Homo sapiens: one gene and its partner. The protein of the gene in region 1 purifies or fractionates together with the protein of each later gene. This does not show direct contact. Each region holds a gene or a part of one and is shown on either strand. Other genes may lie near its edges. The genes, in order: RASSF6 and KDM3A.

Evidence for each region.
Region 2: the proteins of RASSF6 (region 1) and KDM3A purify together in Homo sapiens (affinity purification with mass spectrometry; 3 studies listed by BioGRID and IntAct, with this or other methods). This does not show direct contact.

The regions. Positions count from the first base shown.
Region 1 is NC_000004.12:73,610,271-73,617,621, forward strand, and holds part of RASSF6 (ras association domain-containing protein 6), read right to left. Parts: intron 5,667-7,351; coding exon of another isoform or gene 5,621-5,666; intron 2,974-5,620; exon of another isoform or gene 2,860-2,973; intron 1,560-2,859; coding exon of another isoform or gene 1,526-1,559; coding exon 1,461-1,525; intron 1,407-1,460; exon of another isoform or gene 1-1,406.
Region 2 is NC_000002.12:86,479,371-86,486,721, forward strand, and holds part of KDM3A (lysine-specific demethylase 3A), read left to right. Parts: intron 1-796; coding exon 797-992; intron 993-2,559; coding exon 2,560-2,732; intron 2,733-3,087; coding exon 3,088-3,324; intron 3,325-4,616; coding exon 4,617-4,788; intron 4,789-5,571; coding exon 5,572-5,659; intron 5,660-6,358; coding exon 6,359-6,489; intron 6,490-7,351. UniProt on the Homo sapiens protein: Histone demethylase that specifically demethylates 'Lys-9' of histone H3, thereby playing a central role in histone code.

The DNA of each region.
Region 1 (7,351 bases):
TGTTTTCTACCTCTACTGCTGCCACCTTGGTTCAAGCAACCTTCATCTCCACCCTGGACTGTCAGCTCCTTGGTAACTTCTCTGTTTCCACTCTTGTCCCCTCTCTACTCTGTTCTTAACACAGCAGCTAGACTGATATTGCCACTCATGTGCTCAATATCCTTCCACAGCTTCTCATCTTATTTAGTGGGAAAGATCAAGCCTCATAATGGCCTATCAAACCCTACATGTTCTGAGCCCATTTGGCTTCTTCTCCTGCTGTCTTTCTACTTCCATTTCCCCACACTGTTCTCCCTGACCCTTACAAATATGCATCTGCCTTAGGGCTGTGGAGTTGCCATTCCCCTTGCCTGGAATACCTGCGAAAGCTGCATGGCTTGCTTTCTCCCTTTCTGCAGGCTTTTCCTCCAGTGCTTCCCGCTCACTGAGGAAGGAACTAGGTTATATGCAATCAGAACCCTTTCCGCTCTCTATCTCTAGCACTCTTTACTCCATTTCCTCAGCATTTATCTTATGTATTGACTGCATCCCGACTTTATGATGTAACTCCATGAGAGTAAGGGTTTTGTTTGGTTCATTACTGAATGCTCAGGGTCCAAAAATACACCTGCTCACAGTGAGTAATCAGTAAGTGTTTGAGGAATAAGTCAGTGGATCCTTTATCCTTTGCATCAGGTCTTTTTCCCACTGCTTATAGTTCATCCTTATCTTTCAGCTGTGGCTTTATTTCCATATTTGATCATATTTGTTTCCTTCACTTTCCTACTGCCCAACCCTGCATCATTCACTTCTCCTTCTCTCTGTCATTTATTTGGCTTTTTTCCTTTTTCCACCCCCCATAAGATTTGGGTCATGTTTCAGTACCACTTATTTTTTCATGATTTCATCTCCTCTCAGCCCCCAGCCTCTGCTGTAGCTTGGCCAGTTTCAGTTTTCATCTCTACTCTTATAGCTTTTAAGCCCTTACTCTATTGTTCCCAAAGCAATATGAGATACTGTTTGCTGCGTACAAGAAAAGCTGTGGATGTTGGCCATATATTGCATAATCTAATGTCAAGAGGGAACCAGTAAAAATAAAGTGTCATGAGGAGCAAGGGATGGAGAGGTTAGGACAGGACATAATGTTTTTGGCCCTGGGGTTAATTCTTTAGAACTATCATTTATGAGAAGCCTTAGATCTTTCACCTAATGCTGCTCTTCAATATTATCCCAACTATTAAAACAGAAATGTTGCTTTTAATAAAGTAAAACCACTGTTAAACAAAATATTAGTGATTGTTCCATGAGAGTAAATTTGAGAGTCTTTAGGAACATACTTTTCCAACTTCTTATCTAGTATCTCTACTGATGATTCATATTATTGATCTTGTTGACCATACATCATGCTTAGAAAACTTTGACGGTATATTCCACAAATGACTGGTGAGTAGGACAATGTATAATATAAGGTGTGTGGTTACCTGGTTATGAATGTCTTCTCATTAATGAAGATCCAAGAGGGGTACTGGTGAGCCATCATAGTCATCTTTTCCTCCTTTTTGAGATGGTCTGAGGATATCCTAAACATGAGAATAATATTAATGATTTGTTCCTATAATGCATTAAAAAATTAGTTTCTGATTTAAGTTGAGTGTTTTGTTGTGTCTCTAGAGTATAAGAAGGTTTTAGAAAGTTTTTAAGTAGTATGTCATGTGTGAGCAAAAATACAGAAAAATGTATTATGTAAATGAAAAACTACAGAAACAGTAACTCCAGACACGGATGGATTGAACAATTTGGTAAGTCTGTTTTAGATATATTTCTAGCAAAATAAATATGACTCTATTGATTTATATAATTCTGTATAAGGGAGCATATTCCTTCTATTGCAATAACTCACCCAAACTGGCTGAACCTTGCCCCAATCAGCAGAAGACAACTGCAATTCTAGGCAGCTAAAATCAAGCTCTGACTTGAAGAGTTGATTAGGTATGATGTAATATTTTTCAAGTCTCCTTCAAGCTCTGGAAACTGTGGTCAGATGTGAATAATCTCCTCCTTTATATGTTCATATAAATGGCATTAGGGTGTGACCAGAGATGTAAAGTATAATATTTTCTGTTCATTCCATTTTGCAAAAATTGAATATTCAGTTATCATGGCTCCAAGTCTATAAGATTTTAGGGGATAGAGCCAGAATAAAAAAGATGGATGAGAGAGTTCAGTTTTCTTTTTTTTTTTTTTTTAAAAAAAAAAACGTTGTGTATAAGGGGGTGGATTTCCTCCTTTTCCTTTCAAATCTGGTTATTTGGGTTGGGTAAGATGAATAAAAATTAGGAAATTATATGTCCTAACTCTTCAGAGTACCAGGAAAAAAAGAAAACAGGAAAGCTATTCTTCTATTCTCATAAAATCTCTGATGCATATTTTTCTTTATAGCATGTTGTTAAACTCACTAGGTACTTTGTTACAGTTTTCAGGGTGAATGCTTGGCTGGAGTCTCATTTTAGGCTTTTATCATTCCGATCATCCCATCACCTATTTGGTCACAAACCATCTTGGTATCTTTCTTAATAAATACAGCCCAAGTCCCTTAACCTGACTCTCAAGTTTTCTTCAATTCCACTCAAACCTACCTTTCCAGGCTCCAAATTGAAACATTTCTTCAACACCAGGCCTTGTAATCTAATGAAATTTCATGTCATTGAGTCTTTTCTCACCCATTTCCCCTGGCAGCAGAGGGCCCTCCTCACTGCAGGTCCAGATATCTGGTCCCTTTTAGTCCCCAGTGGGAAATCTTAAAGTCTCCCCATGTCCTTTGAATCCACACTGTTGTCATCATTCTGCTTTCTACCTTGTATTGTCATTATTGATTTATACCTTACTTTCTTTTCTATTGCTATCTTCTTGCTCAAAGAATTGTGCTTCTCTAGTTGGAAATGGCATCCTCTGATAGCACATCATTGGCAGGTCTCATGCAGGACACCTGGAGGACTCATACCAGAGACACAGAAGCTTAGTCACCAGGCAAAGTAATTCTATACGTCAGAAGCCACATGGGCATTTTATGCTGCCTTGGGCACACAGACACAACATGCTCCATGAGCCCAGTGAATCCCAGTTACTTATTCACAGGATTTGGTCTGGGCAACTTGGTTATACAGGTTACACAGGTTCCTCCAGCTTCTCAAACTTGAGTTTTGCCCCTGGATTTTGTCATTCTAATAACCCACCAAAAGGGTTATTAATGTCCCCGACTGAAATCCCCCAGTGATGACCCTGGGGTCCAAACACTTCCTTCTTCCTCCTGGGTCCAGATTATTTATCATATATTCCTTTAATTTAGCCCTACCTCCACCTCTCCATCCATGTTCCAAGAGCCTATACCTTGCCAAAGAGTTCACTTCTCTCCTCATTTCTCGGCCTCTTAGCAACATTTGACAAGATTGATTTTCCTACCTTTTAAAACACTTTCTTCTTGATGCTTTTGAGACAAACCATGAATAACAATCACCTCACTCTATTTTCCTGCTATCTCACAGGCCTCAACACTAGTCTCCTTTGCTGATTCCTCCTTTGTATGATCACTAAATACTGGCTTGTTTGAGTGTCCATTCTCAGCCATCCTTTCTTCTCTATCTATACATTCTTCCAGGTAATCGAATCTGTCTCCATCCCATAATCTCTGTTGAGCTCCAGACGCATGTCACCACCTACCTAATCTCTACTTAGATGTGTACCAGGCATCTCGATATCTACATGGCTGAAAAAGAACCACTGACTTTCTCCCATGCTCTAAAATTTCCTCCTCCACAATTCTTTCCCATCTAGGCATCAAAACTAATATTTAGTCTCATTTTTTCCCTCTTTCATCATAAGCCAAATTCAATCCAAAAGTAAGTCCTATTCACTGTACCACTAACATATTCCAAATTCGAAAGCTTTGATTTCCACTGCTACTACCCTAAGCCAAGCCACCATCATCTTTTTCCTGGATTATTGCGTCAGCCTACTAGAGGGCCTCCCTCTGTTGTGGTCTGAATGTTTGTGTCCCCACAAAACCTAGATGTTGAAACTTAACCCCCAATGCAATAGTATTAACAGGTGAGGACTTTAGGAGGTGATTAGTTCATGATGGTGGAGACTTCATGAATGTGGTTAGTGCCCTTATAAAAGAGACCCCAGAAGCTGCCTGGACCCTTCCACCATGTCAGAGCATAGCAAAAAGACCATCTAAGAACCAGACAGCTTGCTTCCCTCACCAGACACTGGGGATATTTGGAACTGAAGAACCACTGATAGCAGCTTCTTATAATTACAAAGTGAAAATTGGCAGTGATGGACTGAAAAATCATTGCAGTAGCTTTCCAACTGGCTCACTCTTTATTTGCATTCATAAGAAATATCAAAGATATCATTAAAGAGGGCAAATAATTGCAATGTAGTTATAGTGACACACTGTTGATCTATGCTGAGGTAACTCATAGCCAGCTTCAGAAGACTTCAGAAGATGTGATGAAAGGGTTTCCAAGGCTCTTATATTATTTTCTGACTTTAGGAAGGAAGAAAGTTGAATATAATTTAATGTAAGAAAATAAAAACAGGATAAAATTTTCATTCATAGGCAGCACATAATATTTGAGTAGGAAATAATATTATTCATGTCTGATCTAAAAATTGGGTAAATAAAATATTCAAACAGTTTAAATACCTGAAAGGTAAGAACATGCTTTGGTAAAAGTCCCATTGTTAGTATTAACAGTGAAGTGAAATACAAAAGTTAGCCGGGTGTGGTGGAACACACTTTTAATCCCAGCTACCTGGGAGGCTGAGGCCCGAGAATCACTTAAACCTGGGAGATGGAGGTTGCAGTGAGCCAAGATTGTGTCCCTGCACTCCAGCCTGGGTGATAGAGTGTGACTCTGTCTCAAAAAAAAAAAAAAAAAAAGAGCAAAACAAATAAACAAACAAAAACAATGAAGTGAGGCATAGATCTATGAATTCAAATAGTTTTTCATCCTCATCTTCCCATTCCCATTCACCATGATTCATAGCAAACTAAAACCTGCTAGGGCCCTTGTGAAAATCTCCTAAATTATAAAGACTTGGTAGATATAAGCATCTGAGCAAATTTTCTCAAGGACTTAAGAGGAGAATAACAGAGAAGTCATGAATAGCAACGAGGGAGAGAATTTATGAAGAAAGAAAAAATTACAGTTCTAGAAGCCTGGAGGTCTTACTTGGGATGTTCAGTAATTTTGGTAGAACATAATAAACTACAACTTGAGGAGGAAGATGGTTGTTACAAATCTATGTAGGCCCTGGGGCCAGAGATTATTGACTTAGATTGTGTGTAAAATAAGATCATTATTTAATAAGTTTGGTTATTTACTTTTTCATTTTGTCCAGAAACAATGAAGCTGGAGAAACAGGGAATTAGATAGGTCAGCAATTAAGTCCTGGAGAAATCAACAGCACTAGAAGTATAGGAGAGGTAGAATTGGTCTGAACAAGCCAATGAGATCTGGATGGAGCCTGAGGAGGCAGTGTTGGGCAGCATTAGCGTTCCAGCAATGCTGGAACGTGGTTCACCTCCCCCTGCTCTGCATTCCTGCCTAGAGGTGGGCTTGCCTGGACTTACCAGTTGCCTTGTGACCAGAATGAGGCCAGAGGACAGGAAGTGAATTCTAGTACAAATTAAATCAAATGGGTCAGTCATTTAAAGTAACTTCCTGTTATCCAACCATGAGTTAATTAAATGGTTACATATCTAAAAGTGGAAAATTGGGTTCACTCGTTTGTAAATTCAACAAATATTTCACGAGTTCCTTCTCTGCACCTGCTACCGTGCTAGGCACAGAAAGTATAGCCTGTATCTATATCTATAGCCTCTTATTTCTGAGGCCACAAGGTGCACAAAGTGTCATAATGCTAATGATTTTACAAAGAACTAATATATATACATATATCTATATCTATCTATCTATCTATCTATCTATCTATCTATCTATCTATCTATACATATATATACAGGTGCTAACTTCCCTGTATTTCCCAGCCAAAGACAATTTCTCTTGCTTCTGAAATTTCACAGGAAATTTTCTGTAGCTTTCTAATTACTTACTGCTTTCTCTCTCTAACCATATTTTATTTTACTTAATTTGATTACTAGGTCCTTTAGGACAGAATTATTGCTATTTCATTTTTGTGTCTTCTAAAGTGAGTGAATATATGCAGGCATATAGATAAAACATACACAAAATATTGAATACATCCAACATACAGAGAGGTATATTATAATATTAATGGTAAAATTAAGAGCTAAGAGATTATGTGTGATAATTATTTCTTTTTTTATTTTGTATGTACTGTCTAAATCATAGACAAGGAATATATGTTACATCTCTCTCACCCACGTCCCCAGTAAAAGCTACTTAAAAAAAGAACAGAAAGTATCACACTAGAATAGCAAGTGTGTATTTCAATTATGAGATAAGAGTATGTTAAGGGCTGTACACACGGAGAGTCTTTTTAATAAAATATTGTTTCAGCTTGAAGAAGCAATAGAAAGTTACAATTATGTATTCATCTCCAAAACGAAACTGTTTTCTCAAAGTTATGACCTGGAACCTTGGAGTAGAGAAGAGCAGAGTTATATGCAATTACATCACTTCAAGAAAATGAGACAAAGCATCTATAATTCCATCCAGTATCTAGTTCTCTCAAAAAAGGAAAAGAGTTAACAGAGTGATGGTTTCTGGGAAACATTTGGCTCCATACTTTTTCTTAAAATGTGCTTTATTTGCAGAGACAGTAAAGGTCAAGAGTTGGCATATATACAAACTATCACTTAATTAAGTAATATTGGTTGCAGTCAGTGATTGTTGGTTTTGAGATAGAAATAATGTATTATAATCATTGAATCTAAGAGAGGACTAAGCAGAATATGAATCAAACACACTTCTATGTGAGCATGCCACTGCCCTCAGTTCAAGTGGAATCTAATTGGAAATGCCAAAACTTTACTGTTCTATTGCATATTTACATGGTACTAATGCCATGCATTTTATTCTGCTCAAGGTGCCCTCAGGGAGATAAAGAAAGCAGAAACGGTCAGAGAAGCAAATTTGTATTAAGGCACTTAAGGCATCTTGCCACCACTGGGTCTGGGAGGCGCTGCTCAGTCTGCCGACAGCATCTTCTGGAATTACTGGTGTGGTGGAACTCAAAAATTTTCTGCTTCACCTGAGCTTCCCAGTAGAAATTCTTAGGCTGACGTCACAAAGATCACGACTCATTTTTCCTGTTTGTATATTTGCTGCAAAAGAATCGACACTCTCTCCTCTTAAGCTCCTTTACTAGGCTCTAGGTG
Region 2 (7,351 bases), on another chromosome or scaffold:
GAGCAGAAGACTTGTAATATTTGGAGTCAGAACTGAATTTGAGTTCTTTTCCTTCCACGTGCTAGTTGTGTTACTTTGGCTGAAGTGAGCTGGTTTCTATGTGCTTCAGCTTCCTCATCAGTAATATAGAAATAAGAAGCAATATTGATGATTGGGCATCACAGAATTACATCACATGTAAAGAGAGGGCCTGGACCACAACAGGGGTTTGAATATTTTTTTTCCTCCTTCTTATGTATGTATAAACTCACTCTTGCCAGTTTTTAAAATTATTTTCTTCTACAGCAGTCATCTTAGATTTAATTTATGGGTTCTTTTAAGAGCTCATCACATTTTTAAAGCTAAGTCAAAATAGCATTTTCTCTTTCTCTGCATCCCATTTCCTTCTGAAATCACCGCTTTACCTTTCCTGCCTGCGTCATTTATTCGTTTTTAACCATGTTTTCTGTGCCTATCCTGAATTCTGGGATGAGTTCATAGGGGAGACAGGCACAAACTGGTCATTTTAAACCAGCATGGTACATAGAGTAATAGGGATATGTACCAGCAGGGGCTGGTGAAAGGGTGCGGGGGGTAATACCTTGCTGTGTTTAAGTTGCTGACATCTCTCCTACCTTTTAGTTATTCTCTACTAGTGCGGGATTACTGCAGCTGTGGGGATACCCAGGGCTAACTATTAGGTGGTTTTGTTCTGGATATTTATCTTACTTGTTGGTCGGCTATTAGGAGAGAAGAAAAGAAAAGGAAGCTGTCATTCTTCAGCTTATGTAAAATCGTCCTTTAATGCTTAACACAGACTTCTTTAGCTGGAGAAAAACCGACTCTTGGTGCAGTGCTCCAGCAGAATCCCTCAGTGTTGGAGCCAGCAGCTGTGGGTGGGGAAGCAGCCTCCAAGCCAGCCGGCAGCATGAAGCCTGCCTGTCCAGCCAGCACATCTCCTCTAAACTGGCTGGCCGACCTAACCAGCGGGAATGTCAACAAGGAAAACAAGGGTGAGTGTTTCCTGCTTTTGTGTTTGTTCTTGAGTATTTTAGTCCATTCGTGGAAGGACTTGAGAGAACAGTGGTTAGAAGTCGTGTGGAATGGAAAGTGCTTCTCTGGAGTCATCCTGGAACCTGCCACAAATGAAAGTGTTTTTGAAATGCAGCACCAAAGAGGAGAAATTTTGCTGCATTAAAATTTAGGGACTTCCACCTTCTGGCTGTGTTACAGAAGAGAAGAATTGCAGGCCACTTCTTTCATGCAAAGATCTGGAGCAAAATTTTAATGAATCAAATTTGACACTGTAAATGAAGGAATATTTGAATGTTAGACTACATCTGAATTTCTGGAAAAACCTTTATATAGCTTTAAAAATGTGATAAGGAGCTCTTAAAAGAACTCATAAATTAAGTCTAAGATGACTGTTGTAGAAAAAAATAATTTGAAAAGCTGGCAAGAGCACAGCTGGTGAGTTTATACATACCTTAGAAAGAGGAAAAGGAATATTCAAACTCCTGTTGTGGTCCAGGCCCTCTCTTTACATGTGATGTAATTCTGTGATGCCCAATCATCAATACTGCTCATTATTTCTGTATTACTGATGAGGAAGCTGAAGCATATAGAAACCAGCTCATTTGAGCCGAAGTAAGACAATTAGCAAGTGGCCGGAAAAGAATTCAAGTTTTTCAAGGTTTTTCCAGAAATGAAGATACAGTCTGACATTCAAAAATGTAGAAGAATCATGGGACAAGATGCAGGAAAACATTAAGTAAAATTCAGTACCTGTTAATGATTTACAAAAAACTTCTTAAATTAAGAACATTCTTAATCAAGAGTTTAAACCAAAAAACAAGACTGGAGACATCATAAATAGTCGTTGAATTTTTTTAAAAATTTGTTTTGAGTTTTTTTGAGACGGAATCTTGCTCTGTCCAGCCAGGCTGGAGTGCAGTGGCATGATCTTGGCTCACTGCAACACTGCACTCTGCCTCCCAGGTTCAAGCCATTGTCCTGCCTCAGCCTCCTAAATAGCTAGGATTATAGACGCCTGCCACCACGCCCTGCTAACATTTGTATTTTTAGTAGAAGTGGGGTTTTGCCATGTTGGCCAAGCTGGTCTTTGAGGTTTTTGTTTGTTTGGTTTTGTTTTTTTTTTTTTAAACAGTTTCTGTGTTCAAGAACAAGACAAAGGATATCTGTTTTCACTCTTTATTAAGCATTGTACTGGAAGTCCTGGTCAGTGCATTCAGGGAAAAAAAATGTGTAAAGAGAATGCTGCCAATATTTGTAGACAGTACATGCAAAAAATCCAAAAGAATCTACATTTACTAAACATTTGTCAGGGTTGCTAGATACAAAGGTCAATTTACAAAATTCCATTGTACTGGATAGTTATTGTTTTTAACATCAGTGAGGAATCGTCTAAGTAAATCATATCATTCATACTTACTCCCTAAAGTATTTTTTTTGTTTCAGTAAATAGAAAGCAAGTTCTAAAGTAATTCTGCTAGTAGAATACTAATAAGGGATTTGCCTTTCAGAATGTTTTTTCATCTGGATGTTTTGGTTTTATTTTAGAAAAACAACCAACAATGCCAATTTTAAAGAATGAAATCAAATGCCTTCCACCCCTCCCACCTTTAAGCAAATCCAGCACAGTCCTCCATACGTTTAACAGCACAATTTTGACACCCGTAAGCAACAACAATTCTGGTTTCCTCCGGAATCTCTTGAATTCTTCTACAGGAAAGGTATGTGTTTGTTTGTTGGTATTCCATGTTTTAAAGTTGAAGACAGAACAGGAAGAGAGTAGAGAAGTTGGAACTGAAAGTAGAAAGGAGACTGAATCACATACTTACCTTTGTGGGTTCAGAAGGCTGAGTCACTGGAGGATGGGTTTTATGGGACTATAGTTCTGAGCTGGGCCACTTTCTCCTGTTACCTCACTTCTATGAGTTGTCAAGTGGGGACAGGGGACGTACCTTTTTGCCTGGGGGTCCTGGCTTGGAATCTTCTGGATATGTAATCTATACTCATTATGGGAATGGAGTTTCTTGATGGTAAGGGAATGACATATTTGAGACTTTTGTTCTTTCTCCAATTCAGACAGAAAATGGACTCAAGAATACACCAAAAATCCTTGATGACATCTTTGCCTCTTTGGTGCAAAATAAGACGACTTCTGATTTATCTAAGAGGCCTCAAGGACTAACCATCAAGCCCAGCATTCTGGGCTTTGACACTCCTCACTATTGGCTTTGTGATAATCGCTTGCTGTGCTTGCAAGACCCCAACAATAAGAGCAACTGGAATGTGTTTAGGGAGTGCTGGAAACAAGGGCAGGTAATGTAGGCCTCCCATCCTCCTGCCCTATTCAGAACCCCCTTCTCAGTTCCTTTAGCAGACTTCTGACAACCCCACCCCAGGCTTTCCCCCTCCTTCACCTCCTGTTTTATTCTTTATTGTTTCAGGTGAATATAATCAGGTCAGGATGTGGCCATGGGTCTTACTTTTTAAAGCAGATGGTCCTAAGCTGGACTTTTCCAGTCAGGTTTTTGTTGCTTCCTACCAGTCCCTGTTGGGTTTTTGACGAGGGCATCCAGGCTTGGTGATTCCTATGGTAAACTTCAGCAGAGGAAGTGAGGGTGTGACTACAGGCTGATGGGATTTGGGAGATCAGACAAAATGTGCTACAAAATCATGCACCCCTCTTACCTGAATGAAAAGCCTGTGCTGAAGGCAGTTCTAGGTGGGCTAGGGCCGCGTGGTGTCACATAGTCCCCAGGTGCCTGCTTCAAAGGGCAGTGTTGTTGGATCTTAAGTGCCGGTTAATATCTTTAGGAGAATTTCTAGGCCTGCTTCTGTGCTTTCTTGTTTTGGTTCTGTTTTCTGGATCTCTGGCTTCTCTGTTTGGCCAGATAGGGTCTTTGCTAAAGGAACACTCTGCTCTTGGACAAGAATTTGGGAGAATTGCCAAACAGAAAGATGTGAGTGTTTAACCAAAAATAAATTTCCAAAATGTTTTTCTCCATCCAGTGTACTAATAGGATTTGCTCATTTAATCATATATAGACAAGAAACAAAATGATGGGCTGAATACAGTTTATCGGCAGGCTTTCTTTCTTGCTTGTCAATATTTTAATGTTAGACTATTTCACATAAAGGTTAGAGCTTCTGGGTTGTCTTAGACGGCCAAAAGATTTGGCACCCTCACACAGCCAGTAGTAGTGAGGGGTGTCACAGGCCATATTCCTGCTTGGCAATAACAGGCTCAAGTACGGTGGGGTCAGTCACCCTGTTTCACTGGTGACTGGTGTCACTGGACACTCCTTCCAGCGCTTGTCTTCTTCACAGTCCGTCTTGCTGTAAGTAATGAGATCTTACTAGGAGAGGTGATCCTTTCTCCTAGATGCTTACCCATGTAGTTTGAGAGCAAGGGTGTGTAGCAGATGAATGGTGAAGGTTGGAGGTGCTTTGGGAGCTCAGAGAACTAAGCCGAAACTGTCACATCACCATCTGAGACGGAGCACCAGCTCCATGGAAATATACCAATAGCAGTGTGAAGAGGGACTGCCTTCGGGAGTGGGGACAGAGCTGGCAGAGTTCAGACTAAAGTTTTCCTTCTCTTCATTTAGCCAGTGATGGTGTCTGGAGTGCATCATAAATTGAACTCTGAACTTTGGAAACCTGAATCCTTCAGGAAAGAGTTTGGTGAGCAGGAAGTAGACCTAGTTAATTGTAGGACCAATGAAATCATCACAGGAGCCACAGTAGGAGACTTCTGGGATGGATTTGAAGATGTTCCAAGTATGTATGAAAGATCTTTTAAGGGGGTTGGGGATGTGAAAGGAGGGGACACAGGAATGGCAGGAGTCTGAGACCCATCAGTGGCAGCCGCAGCATTTTCCAGGATTTTGGAGTTTAAAATTAACGTCTCTCCTCCCCTTCCTTGTTACAATGTTTATGCTTTTAAACACTGAGGCATTATTACCTGTTCTGTTGGTCTTTGTTGTCCCTGGACAGAACATCAGATAGGGTCAGTCTCTCTCTCTGAGCAGAATAAGTAATTTCTGTTGCATGCTGGCCTCAGAAAAATGGGTTTACTAAACACCTGTGACCCTTGATGGTTGACGTGCATTGCTGTTGGTTAGTTGGGATGCTGCTCACTTCTTCTGGAACACTGTAGAGGAGGAGCAGATTGGATCGATGACAGCTGTTGAAATACCACCTACATGCAGTGGGCAAAAGGGAGCGGCTGAATCTCCCAAGAATGAGTAGCAGCTTAATAAGCTTCTAGGAAAGACAAGGCCCTGACACAGATCCATTAGTTGGTGATCTTTATTTTGCTGCACCTTGCTGCCTCCTGGGTACAAATGGATTTTTTTACACTGCAGAAATAAAATGGTGGATAGTTGGTAGGAGGGGAAAATTAAGGAAAAGTAATATTTGTATACTAAATTTATCAGGTTATGAAAATTTTGCAGAGACATATTTTATTTGTATTGTTGAGGCATAAAATGCTAATTTGTCATTTATTTTGGTCTGTTTCTGAATTATAAATAGTAATAGTTCATTCTGTTTACCTTTCAGATCGTTTGAAAAATGAAAAAGAACCAATGGTGTTGAAACTTAAGGACTGGCCACCAGGAGAAGATTTTAGAGATATGATGCCTTCCAGGTATGATTATGAAGGTGGGGAGAGATGATTCTGTCCTTCACTTGGTAGGATAAATTCTTTTTTGAGGTAGTGAGAAAACAGTTTTCAAGAAAATAACAAAAGTTCTGTAATTATACTGCCACTGATTTTTCATTTCTAGTCTGTAGTCATTGGAGGCATGTTTATTTTTAGATGAGATGAAGAAGTGATTGGCTTTTAGGCCTGGCTGACTAATGGAACACCACAGATTTTCCATGGTAGGCCCTGCTAGAGAAGAGGCTCACTTTTTCTTACAAGGCTGATTTGGAGGCAGTTGTGGAATCTGACCTGTCAGGGTCAGGACAATGTAGTCACAGCACTGAGTTAGACAAGAAGACATCTACTGGGTAGATCTATTTTCCTGACTGAGCTTGAAACTTTGAAAAGGGTGTCACAACTAATCAATGATATATCTCTAAGAATAACTTTTTGTCTAGAATTTATTGCTGAGATCTTTTGTCTGAACGGTTACAGCTGATTTTGACACATTGGTGTGTTGTAGGAGAGAGAGAAGACATCTTTGTAACTGCTGTACTTCTCATCTTAAATATTTGATGGCTGTCAGTCTGCATGATCACAGATGGATTTGTTCCTTTTGGTGTAGAAGGAACAAAACAGGTTACACAATAATGAATTAGAAAAGCAATCTAACTTTGCAAATTCCTGGTTCTGTTGTTCTAGGTTTGATGATCTGATGGCCAACATTCCACTGCCCGAGTACACAAGGCGAGATGGCAAACTGAATTTGGCCTCTAGGCTGCCAAACTACTTTGTTCGGCCAGATCTGGGCCCCAAGATGTATAATGCTTATGGTAAGGAGGAGATGGCTAACTTTAAAATGGAAATAAAACAATTCAAAATGTTTGGAAAATTGATTTTGTGGGAGGGAGAGGTGGAAAACACCCATAATCCTAATGCGTAATACAGCCACAGCTTTCATTTTTACATATTTCCTTTCGTTCCCTGGCCACATGTTTGTGTGTTTCTTTTCATAGTTGCAGTTGTAGGGCATATGCAATTTTGTGTTTTTCCCTTTACTGTACCTAATTTTACATTGTAAAATCTTTACATGTTACTTAATAGTCTTTAGATGACTTTTAATGGTGTGTGATACATCATTGAGAGAATGTACTTTTATTAGTGATTTCAGTGTTCGGACATTTAGGTCAATCTGCTGGCATTCTAGCTGTCTTAACATCTGCTACAATTAAATGCAGTGTTCTGTGTTGTTGAGTAGAAGTTAGTTACTTAGGATTCAAAGTACCCTTTGAGTTGGACTTTTATTCTTTTGACATGACTCAATACTCACTGTCTAACAAGGAGGATGCCTGGGATAAAGATTGGTTTCTCCATTTACCAGAGCTTTCTTTCATCATCATTATAACTGAGATCTTCGTCAGTTTTACACATGGCCTTTAATTAGGGCTGGATTCGAGTTGGCCATTTTGAAGGAAGTATGTATTGTTGAATGCAGTTCTAGTTGTTTGAATATTTCAGTGAATTTTATTTACTCATTTTTACTATTTGGCCCCTACTTTTCCAGTCCTCCTGGAAATTACTTATTTCTTCCTGCCATAATTACTTCCATGTCATTTTCCATTTCTAGCCTTAGACCTGTGGGTGTCTTTCTCAAAAAGGACAAGGTCTGTTGTTGTCTTCGCTATGTTCTCCAAA